Regions from separate parts of the Homo sapiens genome. Here all the other regions are linked to region 1. The links come from fine-mapping of genetic effects on gene expression. A gene starts in region 1. Each other region holds a variant in brackets. All regions are shown on one strand. Distances are from middle to middle.

Region 1 (5,229 bases):
CATGACAGTTTGTAGATGTGGGGCCTACAGAGTGAACCCCTCCATTTCCAATGACTTACTCATAACTAATGTTGTATATGGCTGAAAACTAAAACAGTCACCCAAGCAAAGTCAGTCTCATTAGAAAGAGAGGAATAACCTGATACCAAAAAAATGTAATGACCCTTTTGAAGACAACTGGTTCAGAAGTTGTGAATCATTCTGAAATAGCTAGAGGCCAAACCACATGGACGCCACATTTAAATAAAATACATACACACAACCACCAAAAACAAAGTGATGACTTGTCAGAACTCTAGTTCTGCTTTCCCTATCAGGTCTGCTAGTGATATACATAATTAATTTTAAAATCATATTCTGAGTAAGGTAGGTACTTGGTAAGTGAAGACCTCTAGTTCTCACTGGAAAGCTCCTATCTTTCCAGACCACACCTGCAGATGTCATTAACAATTTCTGGCCCTCATGGGTGATACCTTGGCCCAAAGTACAGTAGCAGGAAAGGCCTGAGCTGAAGCAGCTGGGGAAGCCCAAAGCAATGAATGCCTGTGTCAGCAGACTCATGGCAGAGGAAGTGATTGCTGCCGGCCATGGGCCACCATCCTGCCTTAAACTCCCTGGAGTTACAAGTCACACGTTACCACTACTCTTAACAGGAGGCCCTGTGCAATTTTGTGTCCTATCCTCCTTCACACTCCACCTTTGAATGCTGCTCAAAATATTCTGAATTTTCAGAGACTCCAAGCCGCTAAAGATGGGATGCAAGTGCATAAATCTTCAACACTCTGAAGCCCATCGGCTAAAATAAGGCCAGCCAGGTGAAATCACACTCCACCCCCTCTATTCAGCCAACCATTATTTTCTTTCTCAAGGCTTTTTGGGTCGCCTCTCACCGCCTGGTCTGAGAACTACTTCTCCTTCCAGATCAAGAATCCCTTCATTCTTCCACATGTTTGACATTTGCCCAAGTAGTGATCCTGTCGCTGAGCTTTCCATTTCTCATATTCGCTTTATTTGGGATGTGTTGAAGGATCTACTAGGTGATACCTACAAACTTGCATGACCTCACCCAATATTTTACAATCTCAGTGGAAAAGAGTCCTGTTTACAGAAGCAGCATTTTTCCAAAGGCCCACCACTCTACACACAAAGTAGTGGGTACTAAGCATCCATTTGCCTCCTCCCAAGATATAGAAAAGAGATCACAATAGGAAATCTACCACCCCTCAAAGGATGCAGACTTGGAATGCTCTGTCTCCTGAGCAATCTGGGTACCTCCTAGAGATATAGGAGCAAGGCAGACGCTGACAGCATCAATTGGGGGAGGGCAGAGAGAGACAAGGGTGGCTTCTGGGCAAAGCTGCTTATGGCTCTTGTCTAAGAGAGTGCTGCTCTCTGGGCCTGTATTCTGTGTGTCATTTTCTGCCACTCCACCCCCAATCTATTTGCCAAAGACCTCAAGATGTTTCTAAGAGGTTCTGAATTATTGACAAACCTAGGGAAGATGCTTTTGAAAACATTAAATACAAAAAGAGACCTGTTCAGCTAGTGCAAACACTTGGTCATTAGCATTTTCCTTTTTAAAGCGAAAAGAGGAAAAAAAAAAAAGCCTGCCTCTGTTAAATAATAATGATATTCACAGAACGACAGACACTGAAATTCCAAAGTTCACCATCTCGCCAGCTTTACTCACCCCTAGCCATCTTGCTCCTTTATTGGCAGCCTGTTGAATCTGGACTCTTTTGAGGGTGACATGGTAAACAGCTCCTTCCTCTACCTCTTCACCCCAGTCCTGAATCGAGCTCTGCCAGGGACGGGATAAAGAGAAAGAAAAAGAGTATTTTTTTCCTCTCTGCTAACCACAATCTATCCCAGCTGCCTTGCTGCTTACAACAGCACTCAGGGCACAAGATGGGCTGTTCAAAATAAATATTACAATCCGCAATACAAGACACATTTTGATAGAGGGAATGCTGAGATTTTCTTGGCTTGCAGTCCCTTCCTGTGGTATCAGGATCCCCTGACTTTTCCATTTAGTTATTTCTCCTAGACTTGCTCACATATCTTAAATAGTTTTGTTTTGAAGTCTTTCTTTTTCTTTACAAAGAAACTAGATTAGTCCTGATTAACTTGTCCCCCTTAAGTGAAAGGAAAAATAATTCTTTGTAAAAAAAAAAAAAAAAAAAAAAAAAAAAAAAAAAAAAAAAGAAAAGAAAAGAAAAAGAAAAAGAAAAAAAGAAAAGAATAAGTCTGTACTTTTTAGAGTGGCTCGGTCATTGAAGAAACCAGATTTTAAACTCAGACACAAACAAGTGTTTAAAACGCCAAGAGTCCTCACTCCTTTGGAAGTGAAGTGGTTTGCTTGTCTTTTCTCCTCATTGTTTTGGAGCCCACAAAGTTAGCGGGGGTGGAAAGTTTTTATTTCCGTAAAATAATCTGGCAAGTGCAGAAAAAGCAACACATCATCAGGCAGCTTCTACTAAAATCTGTGCAGCGACCCCCTGGATTTCCATGTCCCCAGCTAAACCTGAGGTTTGTGTTAAAGAGCCGCTGGGACGCAGAAGCGCTCCGCGGTTCACCCACACTAACAGTTCTTTTTCCTTCAAAGTTCTCCCCTCCTGACATGCATCTGCCCCAGACACACCACAGGCAATTGCTGAGAAAGTAGGTACGGTTGAAAGGGAGAAGACACGCAGAGAGAGAGGAATACAAAGCGGAGTGAGAGAGCTTTAGCTCACAAGTATGGAATCGGATTGCTCCGTTCACTCCGAGGGAGTCCAAAACACGCCCAGCGAAAGCGGGAGAAGATTCCCCACCAGAGAAGCCTCGGGAGAAGGCAGAGAGCTCTCGTTACCATTTTAGCTTGCCAAAGCAATTTCATTCTCAGTTTTCTCTCCGGTGCGCGAACGCTGCATGATGCGCCCTGCTCGGAGGCCAACGCAATGTCTGCTGGGCTCAGCCCCGCGGCGCCTCGCCCCGGTCCCGGTCCCGAGCGACCGCAGCGCACAGACACGCGCCGCGCTGCCCCCGCCGCCGCCGGTGCGCGCGACTCGGGCCACAAAGGGAGCGCGGCGAGCGAGCGAGCAAGCGAGGAGCAGACTCCTCCCCACGCCACTCCGTGATGTAAGGCTTTCCTGTTTGTGCTTGTGAGCACACTCTCCCTTTCTTCAGTCCCATGGATAAAGTCAGCATGAAAGCGTTTCTCCAGTTCTGAAGGTGATTGGGAAACAACACTTTCAAGTTTATCAGGTTTTCCTGACGGTCACCAGGTGCCAAAATAGAACTGAGTGTGGGATGGAGGATTTGTGTGTGTCTTCTTCCTTCGCTAAAACAATGGAAGGAGAAAGTCCAAAAAACTTCCATTATCTGCCTATTATCTATTTTGATTTTAGAATAATTAAGTCAGAATGACCCCAGTGAGAGCCGCAATACTAGACGCCAGGAAGTTTTTCATTAGGACAGAGGATAAGGTCAGAGGACACCCGGGTATTCCAAAACCATGCCCAGGGGCTATACCCTCTCCTGCATCAGCACACTGCCAACAGGAAATCGCGCTGGGCTTTTCACCACCCCAATTACCCAGTAACTGGCCATTGGGGGTGGGAAGGGAACAAAGCAGGGTAAGGTTTTGCTAGGACTGACAGTGTCCTGGAGGTTCTGTGAGTCTTTGTGAGTAGCCACCATGGGTTGAGTTGCCTGTACTGTAGGGACACAGTAGGATCATAGCCACAGGGAAAAGTTCTTCATCAGATGACTACCAGCAGGAGTTTTATCATAATGGAAAGATCTGCTATAGGGATAAAAGATTATTACATTTTTTTAGATCCAGTTTTAACAAGTCAACAGCAAGAGATACCAGATAATGCAGTCAAACTTGACACCTGCCAGAATTCCATGCAAATTGCAAATACCTTTAGGGCTCATGTCTTTCATACTATTCACCCTAAATGAATTTAATCACCTTCAAATAAAAAAAAAAATAGGTCTCCCACTAATTGCCATACTATGACATAAGCCTGGGTTTTGGTTAATGGTAAATATATCATGAGCTGACAATTTAGCAAATCAAGTGTACTGATGTTCCCAGGAGAGCAGAATAAATGACAGCAAGGGCACATTAAGCAAAAACAAAAGGATCTGTGGACACTTGAGAACATCTACAAGTCATTCAGCCAGGTTATCCCCATACAACCAGAACCTAAGGGCACCATCACTGTATAGAGAGGAGATGCCCTTTTAGCAAGCTGAAGTGGTTGTTCTATAATTTAAAAAACAAACGAACGAAAAACACATAGACTAAATCCTTCTATGATGATCAGGGCAGAATGTTGCTGGGAACCAGAGGAAAATCATGTGAAGGCCCTACCTCCCTGCTTGTTAAGCCATCCTCAGGAACCCAGGCCCACCTCTAGAGGACCTATTAGGTGATCTTGGACACCACGAAATGCAACTGAGGACAGTTAAACAACCTGTAAGATTAACTTCACCACTACTTTAACCTGATTTTTGGCTACACATTTGGCAGTAACTGAAATATTTCCATTTCAGGGATATTAAGCAGTTTCTTCAACCTCACTCTCCCAGGAAACCTTCCTGGACAGGGCGGCTTAAATTCACAAGGCCCCACTCAGGTTTCAGAGCTACTCACCTTTCTCTGTACTCCAATTCCCTGGCTGGCCACCTAGTGTGTAAAGGGAAAAGAACTAGCTTCAAGCCAAGTGGATACAGCTTCACATCCAGCCTTGCAGTGAGTGAACCTGAATGCTACTACCCTGAGCCTTAATTTCCTCATCTGCAAAATGGGACAACCATCTACCTGAAAGAGTTTGAAAGAGATCAAATGAAATAATGCATGCAAATCATCAAGCACATGGTAAGTGATCCAAAAAAATTCCACTGCCTCCTTATTGTACTTCCTCCCAAACCATATTTATCCAGACTCAGTGAAAAGCGTGTTATGTATGCAACACTAGGAAATCTGAAATGATGTCTTCTCATGGAATTACTTTAAAATTTCAGAGAGGTTTTCCAAGAATAACTATTTGTATTTACACCTCACAATGTATGTAATTTTGTACAAATGCTGTTCTGCAAAAAAAGAGGCAGACTTTATGCTAGATAGAGCAATTGTGTGTTGCAGTTTACAAATTTTTTAATATTCATTTAAAAATATTTCATCAGTAGGCAGTTCAGTCCATATTACCTTATTACCTGTACCTTTGGGTTAAAGTA
Region 2 (5,229 bases), 82 kb before region 1:
TTTAGAAAATAGTTTTAAAAGCCAGCTAGAATAAATCTTTTCATATGGCAGCCAAGGAGACTAAGATACAAGTCCATTAATTTTTTTTGCTCATGTTTTAGTCTCAAACTTGCTGTGGAAGAAATCTTAGGCTGGTTACGTGACTTTCCTTAGTGTTCTTTTTTCAACCATCAAAGAAAGGATTACCTTTCGTGGCAATCAGACAAGGTTGCAATCAATTGAGTAAGGCTACATTTTAACACTTGACTGTCCCTTTGTTTTTGATACTATACTACAGTTGAGTGGAGAGTGGTGGTAAGGGAAAGAAGAGGTGAAGTGGAGGTGTGAAGGGTGGGGACACTGCATGCTTCTGATTTTCCCATCGCATTTCACCAGGGCCTATCAAGTAATGATTTTATATGACCCCATCGTTCTTAAGGAGAAATGTGCAGAGGAAAATCAACCAACTAATCTCTCTTTAATACACACAATCACCTTGATTATTCAAAATAGAGAAGAAAGAACCTAAAAAAAGAATAATAATCAAGAAAATTGCATTGGTCTTTGAAAAGCCTGCTAGTTCTTCTACTGATAAATATTGATGTCATAAACAAAGCACGAGCTTTGGAGTGCAAGTAGCTGTGGCTTCTACAGCTCTGTAACATGAGGCATTATAAACATCCACTTTATTTTTTTCTTTTTACCCATCAAAGAATCACCTAATAAATAATTTGGCTTACACCAAGTAGACTATCCCCTGAACGAGAATATGAGCTTATCAGCAAGCTTGAGGATTCTGGCACTCATTTTTCAGCATAAATTTATGAAACTCTGGTTTACCAGCTTGGGGCTCTTGCAAATTCAAACAATGCCAGTCTCTTAGGGCTTGATCAACTCTGAGTAAACTTATGAAACTGAGGACCCAGACCTTCCATTCTGCCCCACTAAGGCAGCCTGGCTGGGAAGCCAGCTGGCATCCCTCTCCTCCTAACTGAAACTGACTATACCACATGTGGTATAGACCATACAGAATTTATAGATTCTTCCCTGATATAGCCTAACTTCCTGACTAGTTCAAACCTGGGCAAACTTGTTGAATGTAGCTGGCCTAGTTGTACTCATGACACAATCCCCAGCCTCTAAATCTGTAGTGACAGAGAATCAGAACTGCCCCCTCCCTCACCTTTCCTTCCTTTGCACAAAGTTCTTTGATCTACAGTGAAGTTCCGGAAATGGAAGTGATGGCAGTAGTGCAAAAATCAGGAAACCAAGTTGTTAATTATTCCAACGGTTGCACCAAGAAATATGAAGAAAAACAGCATAGGATGTGGCCAGTTAATAATTTCAGGTACTTAGGAAAGAACATTTAAAGGTTTTTAATGCCAATAAGATAGTTTTTAAAATGCTGAAACTAAAAGGACAACTAAATAGTTTCCTACTGAACATCAAGAACTAATGTCCTATCTGCACACATTACCCCTTGAGTCCTAAAATAGCTTAGGGCTTTGTAGTGAGGCTGAAAAATAACCAGAAGTAATGGCAAATTGCTGTAACTTCATCACTCCACAACCTTATCCCTCAAAATCCAGATAATAAGCACATCCTTCAAATCATCCCCAAAGCCAATAATCTTGGCTTTGGTATACTTAGAATGAGTTTGATTTCTGCAGGAGCCCTGCCTCAAAAGTCATTAATGATTATGTGTAAGATGCACCCTGCCTGAAACACACAGAGGATTTCAAATATGTTTCTCTAGTTATGCGATACAAGCTTTGAAGGTGAGGACTCATCACAACCACTAATTATCCCGGCCAAAGAAAAGCAGAGCAAACACTTGGGAACTTACCTTGGGACGGCAGCCCAAGTCTTTTTTAACCGATAGATGGAATTAGACTGCAGTGCCGAAACGATGGCCCTCAAGGAGGAAAAATTCTTCAGGAGTCTACATTCCTGCATGGGGAGTGATTAAAACATAAAAGGCATTTAACTATCAATATTACAATGACTTGGTGGTTTCCTGTTTTAGAGGTATCACAGCTGCTATGAATTCTTACCACAAAATAGGCAGCTGTATAAATAGTGAACATCAAAAAGTGGCTCCTTCCTCCCACCCCAGTCATCGAAACACTTTATAGATTTTGGCACAGTATGCTTGTTTTTCTC[T/C]CGTCAATATATTTTTTTGTGTTGTTGTTACAGTTTTATAGTTTCCAGCTTTCCTAGTAAAAACACTAATGGAGGTAAGTCTACAGAGCTATGCTAGAAAGAGCAACTTTCTTCTGCTGAAAGCACACAGATGTCCTAAAAATATGCACTTTAGATCTTCTTTAGATCCCAAAATGAGCTGGGCAGCAGCCACTTTGAGGTCAGATGGTATTGAACATCTCATCACCAACCCTTGTCCACAGAGGTGTATATAATTTGGCAATAAAAATTCACCACAAGTTGAACTTTGGCTTTTATGCTCTTAGCCAAGGGGGGATATTTTTATACACATTCATTTGGTTTCAAATTGGCTTGTCCTGCAACCATAAACATTCAAAAACACCTTGGTACTTCAATGCTTCCAAAATAACTCGGCCTTTTAAAATAAAATTCATTTTGGCAATGTTTTAAAACAAAATAGAAAGAGAACAGGAAACATTCTGGATGCCATTTTCTGGGTAAGGAGAGAGGCTCCCTATTTAAACTTAAGCTACCATAAGGAGCCTGTAGCATCAGCAGTTAGTGACCTTGGAGTCAAAGTCCTGTGACTGAATAGCAGGGACAGCAAAACAGACAGGGAGAAAGTCCCATTCTTGGCTGGCATGGGGAAGGTAGCAACGTGAGGAGACTGGACCAGGCCTTATGTCAAAGGAGATGCTTCATATACAGGCACATGACAGCGTACTAGGCCCAGTGTTTACAAGTGAGTACACCATGTGAGCACGTATTTGGTTTTGTGTAGAGTATCTCAGGTAAGAAGTCCCAGAGTGATTGGGCATAAATGTAAATCACTTCGAGAATCATTTCACAAAGAAATGTTAATCCTGAATACGAAGGAAAAACAGCACTCTAATTTAGCATGCCAAAATCTGGACACTGAAAACTATGCCAAACAAACCCTCAAACATTTTCTTTAGAGTAAATGCCAAAGTACTTAATAAAAGTCATGTCCACCCTTTTTAAATGCCTCAATGTCCTCCCCTTATTTGGAAAGATATAAAGAGAAAGAGAGAAGAAGGAGGGGAAGGAGGGAGGGAGGGAGGAAAAGAGGGAGGGAGGGAGGGGAAGAGAGAGAGAACAAGAGAAATGTTCTGAATTGCAATCTGGAAACTAAGCCTATGGGAGCATGGTTCAACAAAGGTTCACAAAAGTTATATTCTAAAAATCAGGAAACTTGCAATAAAAAAAGGAACTCAGGAACAGATACATCATGCAAATTGAAATAAACACATGGAACACATTATTCAAAAAGAGGTTTAAACTAAGGGTTTAAAGGAGTACAAAAGGCATCTGGTCCCATTTCTAGAAAAAGAGGCATCTTCCAGGAGATGTGATGCAAAAGTAAAAACATACCATTAAGGGCAGTCCAAGAAAATATAGTCATATTAGGTCAGAAAAATTTTCTTTTTCAAATATCCTTTCAATAGAAATTGACTACGATGAATGCAGGAAAGGTAAAATAAATCTTGGTAGCAAACCACTGGTAAGCCTCATTATTTTATTACATTTCCCTACACAATTGTAAAAGATACAACATACTCAGTATTAGGAAGTGATATCACCAAAAAAAAAGTAAGAGCCCTTGGCTTTATTAGCACATGATATGGGATTTGAAATATACTTCAAATGATTCAACTTGCATTTCTTATTACTACATAAATGCACAATTTACATTCAATTTGGACCAAAAGTCATCGCTTGAGCCCCACTATGTCACATACACAGATGCTATATTGTCACTATAGCCAAAGTAGTTGAATGAATTAGGGGTAGACAGTCTGCTTTTGAGACATGCTGTGACACTTATGGCAAAAAAAAAAATAATTCCTTATCATTCTAAAAAAACAGAGAACTTCTACACTATATCTCACTCACAACTTCTTTTGTATCTCTTACTTGCTGAGCAATAAGCTCGATTTAGAATAGGAGAAATAGAAGTTGTTTATGCAACTTACACTCTTTGTTTCTTGCTGACTTTCATAATACACTAAGAAGTCTGTAATAACAGACCACCTGAAGACTCAAGGCAAATTATCTGGCACAATTGTGTCTCTGCTCTTTAATCAAAGACAGCAAAAGAGAATGTAACATTATGCCCTATCAATAGGGGCTCAAGGAAAAATATATTTAAGGGGACATAAAGCAAAATGTGTTTTGGTTGAGAGTTTACCCATAGAGCCCAGAACACAAATTAATATGATATTTTCATATTAATAATTTTTCAAAATCATTATTTTGCTGATGTAATTTCTTTTGCCTAGAAAAAAAAAAACCTCTCTAATCTTCAAATACCAAAAATCCTATCTGTTACTCAAAGTTAATTTCAAATGTCAATTCATCCATGAAACCTTCCTTGATCATCCCATCAGAAATGATTTCTCTCTCCCCCACTTTTACAGTGCTTATCTCCCATGGCCCTACTCCTCTACTGTCTCAGGCTGAGATAATTCCAGTATATCTTAGCTTCCTTGTTTGTGTACGGGTTCCTGCAAACAAATAATTATGCTCTATCCTAGTATGTCCCCTAAGTACAGAATATTGTGGTTTACACACATTAGAAGTTCACAAAATATTTGGTGGCCCACTGACTGCACACTGTTGCCATTTTCTCAGTCATGAGATAAGATGCTGAGAAGGGGAGGTCCTATGGTATGTAAGCAGTTCATCCAAGAGACTAGACTCCAACACTCAGAAGAATGTGAGTCAGGCCTAGGAACAGACTCCTCCCCTCCAACTTCAGATTAATATGAGACATGACCTCAGATTAATATGAGATCTCTGTAAGTGTCTCAGTCCTTTAGAAAAGAGATTCAGGACTCTGAAGAAGTACCAGCTCTTCAAAACTGCAGAAGATGTAATGCCTCCAGGTACTGGGAGGGGGCATAGGTAATCACTCTGGGTTGAAGGGCAGTCTGTTTTGACATGCAGACCATACATTTATATTTACTGAACATGGTGCTGAAACCAACACTCAGTCTTGTCGTGAATACAAAGGGGAAAGCAGACAGAATGTCTCACTCTAGAGAGGTAGCAGTGTGAGAGCCCATA
Region 3 (5,229 bases), 170 kb after region 1:
TACTCTGGGATTCTTTCATAGTTCTCAAATAAGAAAATAAAAAATTTCCTAAATAAGGCAATACAAAAGAATAGAAATGTAAGAGAAGAGATATATTAGCTCTTGAATCCCTGTTTCCATTTGCTGTCAATAGTGCCTCTAATGTTCGATTTTCTCTTCAAAGAAAAATCTTGATTTAAAAGAAGAAAAAGTACAATCACCTTTAACAGCTAAAGTATACTGATTAGCATCTACTAAAGTTAGCAAAGACTGAAACTGAAAAAAAATTGTAAAATCTTTATTCTAAGTTATATAACGCCATTCACCATAGTAATGATTTTATACTTTGGTATATGGCTTTTTAAAATAAATATTGCCAACAGGTAAAAATTTTTCCTTTGCTGTCTTAAGGCATTCCTAAGAGAATTTTTACCAGTGTGTGTTCATAACTTGAATGTTAATTTAAACAATGTTACTTCTATCACCTAAATGATATACTTATAGAAGAGTGGTTTAATTGGGAACAGAAAAACACCACATTGCTTCTTCCCAAGAAAAAGGGATGTATTCCATTCTCGAGGTCTCTCTCCCACTCTCTATTTATATATAATATACTGCATAGATAAATATACACACATTATATATGTATTTTTTTGAACTTAAAGAAGACTGGACATATGTATTTACATGTATATATCCAACAAATATTTAATTTTGAGATCTCTCTCCCTCTTCTGATTTATTATTCTCAGTATGATTCTCAAACTGTACGGTCTTTCACATTTCATTCATTCATCAAGCATGTATCGAGTCCCTTCTGCATGCTTAGCTTTTTGTCATATGGAAGGAAGATACAAAAGAAAAACTGTTTCTGCCCTTCAGAATCTTTCCATCTCTTCTAGGAAGGAGATAAAACACCATATATCATTAAGAAATTTATAAGACTAGTCCCAAAACCAATGGTACAAGCAACATGCATTTTACATTTATGTAGAATTTTAGAGCTTGGAAACACTTTCGTGATATATAATCCTAAGAACAATCTTGTAAAGTGCACATTATTAGCTCCATTTCAGTGATGAGGAATCTGAGACAGAATTTTAAGTGACATGTCTCGTTCAAACATTATGAGTGGAAGAGTCAACACTTAAGCCTGAGTTTTCTGATTCTAAGCCTAGTGCTCTTTTCAACACAGCACTGGAAACCAAAGATTGTGGTACACAACAGGGCAACAGCCAGTCTTCTGCTCGAGGTCCAACTAAACTGGACCCATACCGAGCAGTGTCCAGCCAAATGTCCAAATTAATTTTATCCTGCAAATATTTGTTCTTCAGTGTAATACACACAGCACAACTACCATTTCCTTCGTCTTAGTGCCTTTATCTCCTACATTCCAGAAATGGGGATGTCAAATATTTTTTTAAATCTGGCCTAGATGGAATCATATAAATCTCAAATCATAATATAAATCTTAAAGGTCTGGTTTCCACCAATCCTTCCACATTTTGTTTTCCCCCAGCACTAGAGAGCCTAACCTACCCTCACCCCTTTCGAGCATTCTTGCTCCAAACGACCACCTATTTTAAGATGTCAATGACCCTTTCCCAAATTCTACAAATTCACCCCAGTTTTGCCACCCGACCCCAGCGCCTGCCCGGACACGTTCCCCTCCCTCCCAATAGATTTGATACCGAGTTCAGGTTCTGCAGATCCCGTTGCGATGCTGTCACACAGCACTGACAGATAAGATTTGACCTTTCGACTCCGTCCTTGGGGACTTCCCGCTGGCCAAGAAGGGTAGTTCCAATCCCAGGAAACGGGCTTCCTGCTCAGGAACGCAGCCTCTAGCAGCGCACAGTCTGAGGCAATGTCTCCGGCAATTAGAACGATGCTGGGCGCCCGGGTGTGCATCACTCTGCCTCATACTCCTACCAACTGCAGGGCACTCGGTCCGGCAGCCAGTCCATCCCACCCACAGCCAAGTCCCAGCCAGCCGGACCTTACGCAGGACCCCGATGATAGGTCGTTGACGGCTGCAGCAAAAGCCAAGGCCACCTGCCGCTGCTGCCCATCCCCGCCAATCTGAGACCCCCTAGACTGG[A/G]CCGCAGAAAAGCGTTTCTATGGGAACCCCCCCACCGAGAATCACGTGACGCAATCGGACGACCAATCGCTTCTTACCTCTGCCCGCGGTCCAGCTTTTGGCCCTCCCTCTCGCCCCCGCCTCCTTCGCCCAGCCCCGCCCCTTGCCTGCGGAGAGCCCGCGCCTGCGCGCTGTGTCCTGCGCGCTCCTTCCCTCGCGCGCGCTCTCCGTGGAAGAGCAGGGGCAGCGTGGGAGGCGCCAAGGGAGCGCGAACCTGAGGAGGAAGAAACGGGGCTAGCGCGCAGGCCCAGAACGGTCCGAGCCGCGGCAGTCGGCGACGCCTCAGAGCGGAAGAGGGAAGTGAATCAGGCGCCGGGTAGTGGGTTGCTGGGCTGGGCTTGCTGAGGTAGAGGCAGCGCCAAGAAGAGGCCTTTGCCGCTGGTCGGGATTGGGATGTCGAAGAACACAGTGTCGTCGGCCCGCTTCCGGAAGGTGGACGTGGATGAATATGACGAGAACAAGTTCGTGGACGAAGAAGATGGGGGCGACGGCCAGGCCGGGCCCGACGAGGGCGAGGTGGACTCCTGCCTGCGGCAATATCCTTGCATTCACCGCCCTCCCCACCCCAGCCCAGCCCAGCCCGCCCTTCTCCTGGGACCCGGGAGCCTGCAGGATCCGCGGGGCACCGGCGCGGAGCTGCCCTCTCAACCTGCGGCTTAACCTGTCTCTTTGGGATCGCCCGCTCTGAGAGGGCAAGGGGGAAGCCCCCGTTTCCTACCCAGTCGGCAGGAGACGCGAGGGTCCCACTCTTGGAAGCCTGCCCTCCCCCGCGCGCCTTCCACGCCCCCAGATTCCTCAGGTTGCACCCGAGTGCCTGCCTGCCTCGGGAACTGGTCCCGCCGGCCGCGCCCTCGCGGCGCTGGGGAAGGCGGCCCCGGCTGGTGGGGAAGGCTGGTGCCGAGCGCCTTAGTTTTTCTTCCTAGAACTCTGATTTCCTGGGGTCACATTAGCTCCAGAAATTTCTGATTGTGGGGAACCTGCATCTTTCCTTAGTGGTTTTGTTTTTTGTTGTGTTTTTGTTATTGGTAGCGTTAAGGTAGTTTATTCCTTACCGGGGGGCGGGGGGAGATGGGACTGTTCGAAAATTGAGGGTCCCTGTGCTTTCAGCCCATTGGCCTTTTTAAAAAAAAAAAAAAAAGAAGAAGAAGAAGGGGATTTGGCAAAATATACATTGTACAGAATTTGTTAACTGGGGGAGGGGAATGAATACAAAAAATACAAAACTCCTAGAAGGAAGCTTGGAGCCTTTTACCTGCTAAGAAAAGGACAATAGAAAAAACAACGGGGAATGCGTGTGGAGAATCCTTGGAAATATTTAAAATAAACCCCAATGAATAAGATAGAAGATGAGTCATTCGTATAAAGCAGAATCATTTTTGTAATCCTAAAATTGTTTCCATTTTAGTTAAAATATGGCAGTCAGTTCCCGGTTTCTGTTTTTGCATATTTGAATATTCATAACTTTGGCTTCGCATTTGCATTACATCTTTTTTAGAAAAATGTAAATGTTGCAAAAAAACCGAAGCTGTAGTTTTAGAAAATCTCAGACACTGAATTTGTATGCATTTCTAATTCTTGGGTGTATTCATAAGGAAGACTCTCAACAATGTCCTGTTATAGTGGGGAAATATGAGAGTGAAAATATTTAATGGCAACAATATCCTTTTTTAAAGGCACCTAAATAGAGCATTAGACATTTATCAATATATAGATAGTGCTTTGCCACAACTTTCACAATTAATTAGCTGTTGCTCTTTTGCATTATTTAAATACTTAAGTGCTTGGAGTTATAAAAAATGAGCTAATCTACATCAGGCATGCTTCTCTAGAAATCCCTGCAGCCTTGAAAATAACAGCTTGTCAACCAGAGATTTTGTGTAAGAACTTTTTCTTTAGAAAATAAATGGTGAACATGCTTCCTAAAAACATTATTTGTGATGGATAGATGGTGTTTTATGAAACCCCAGTGTATTTTAGGTAATTTGTGGTGACTTTTAAATGGTACTGCTGTATCCATATCAGTGGATCTGCTTTTTGATCAGTTCATCTTAAAATATAAAGATACTGTCTCTTCTTACCGTTACATACAGCCAGGAAAGACAGCCCTAGTGGTGGGGTACTAGAGTTGGAGGAACAAGTGAACTCTGTGGTTTTCCTTTTAGGGGAATGTTTGTACATTCTGACAGTCTGATTGGCCTTCTGTTTCTCATGCTTGCTAACTCACTAGTGCTTTCAAAGAGAGCCTGAATTTAATAGGTATGGTCTAACACAGTTTGAATAACCTTTGTGAAATATGAGAGAAAATATCTAAAGCAAAAAATTAAGCTGCCACCTAAGGGACATATGAATTATTACATCTTCTGTGATGCCTCTTTTCATCAATATTGAGAGATTGCTAATGTGTATCATTCAGATTGCTAATCTGCCAGCATGTTCTACCAGCATTTCAGATAATACAGAATATGGTTCTAGCAAAAGTTTGGTCTTTATTTTTTCAATTAGAATCACAGGAAAAGACATATTTTGGTTGATAATAGGTTATTTCATTTGGGGGACTAATAATTCTGATATATATTTTAGGATTTCTTTAACACCACTCTAGGTAATGTTTGCATATGTATCTCACTGGGAAATGAAAGACTATCAAGGTGTTCACTTGATAGTTAGAACCAAGGGTGAAACAGTCTTTGCTTTATTAAAAAAAAGTCTAATGTTCTATTTTGCTTTTGATATTTTGCCTTTGATTAACATCCTGGAAACCAACACATTGAATTTCCAGTATTGAACATAGTGACCAAAGTAATTTTCTTTTTATATGTAAATCAAGTCATAAGAACCAGTGGTTATAATGCTTTCCTGGGGGCCATCCTTTGCTGTTACACCCTTAACTTCCATCACAGGAAACATGACAGCTGCCCTACAGGCAGCTCTGAAGAACCCCCCTATCAACACCAAGAGTCAGGCAGTGAAGGTGAGTCGCAGACTACAACACAGTGATCTCTGCTGATATCTTATTCTTAGTAAAATCCTCTGCAGTTGCAAAAAAAAATCAATATTTTAACTGTTTGCTATCTTTGACATAGAAGAGTTTATAATGTAGTTTGATAGGT

What was found.
Region 2: its variant is fine-mapped to the expression of RGL1 in T cells (TOPMed, PIP 0.94).
Region 3: its variant is fine-mapped to the expression of RGL1 in whole blood (TOPMed, PIP above 0.99).

Annotation. Positions count from the first base shown.
Region 1 is chr1:183,802,947-183,808,175 of GRCh38, reverse strand. It overlaps RGL1 (ral guanine nucleotide dissociation stimulator like 1), which reads right to left and starts at 3,056. Exons shown (of 18, transcript NM_001297671.3): 1 at 2,852-3,056; 2 at 1,691-1,801. The coding sequence starts at 2,878. RefSeq lists enhancers at 584-633, 1,377-1,436.
Region 2 is chr1:183,885,174-183,890,402 of GRCh38, reverse strand. RGL1 (ral guanine nucleotide dissociation stimulator like 1) reads right to left here. Exons shown (of 18, transcript NM_001297671.3): 8 at 1,826-1,929. Among named protein-coding and RNA genes, the nearest start is that of RGL1, 83 kb to the right of the region's middle. The variant T/C (reference allele first, on the strand shown) is at 2,143.
Region 3 is chr1:183,632,943-183,638,171 of GRCh38, reverse strand. It overlaps ARPC5 (actin related protein 2/3 complex subunit 5), which reads left to right and starts at 2,389. Exons shown (of 4, transcript NM_005717.4): 1 at 2,389-2,655; 2 at 5,018-5,090. The coding sequence starts at 2,513. It also overlaps a transcript of RGL1 not described here. RefSeq lists silencers at 2,106-2,265, 2,746-2,795, 2,876-2,935, 2,887-3,105 and enhancers at 2,416-2,695, 2,693-3,193. The variant A/G (reference allele first, on the strand shown) is at 2,081.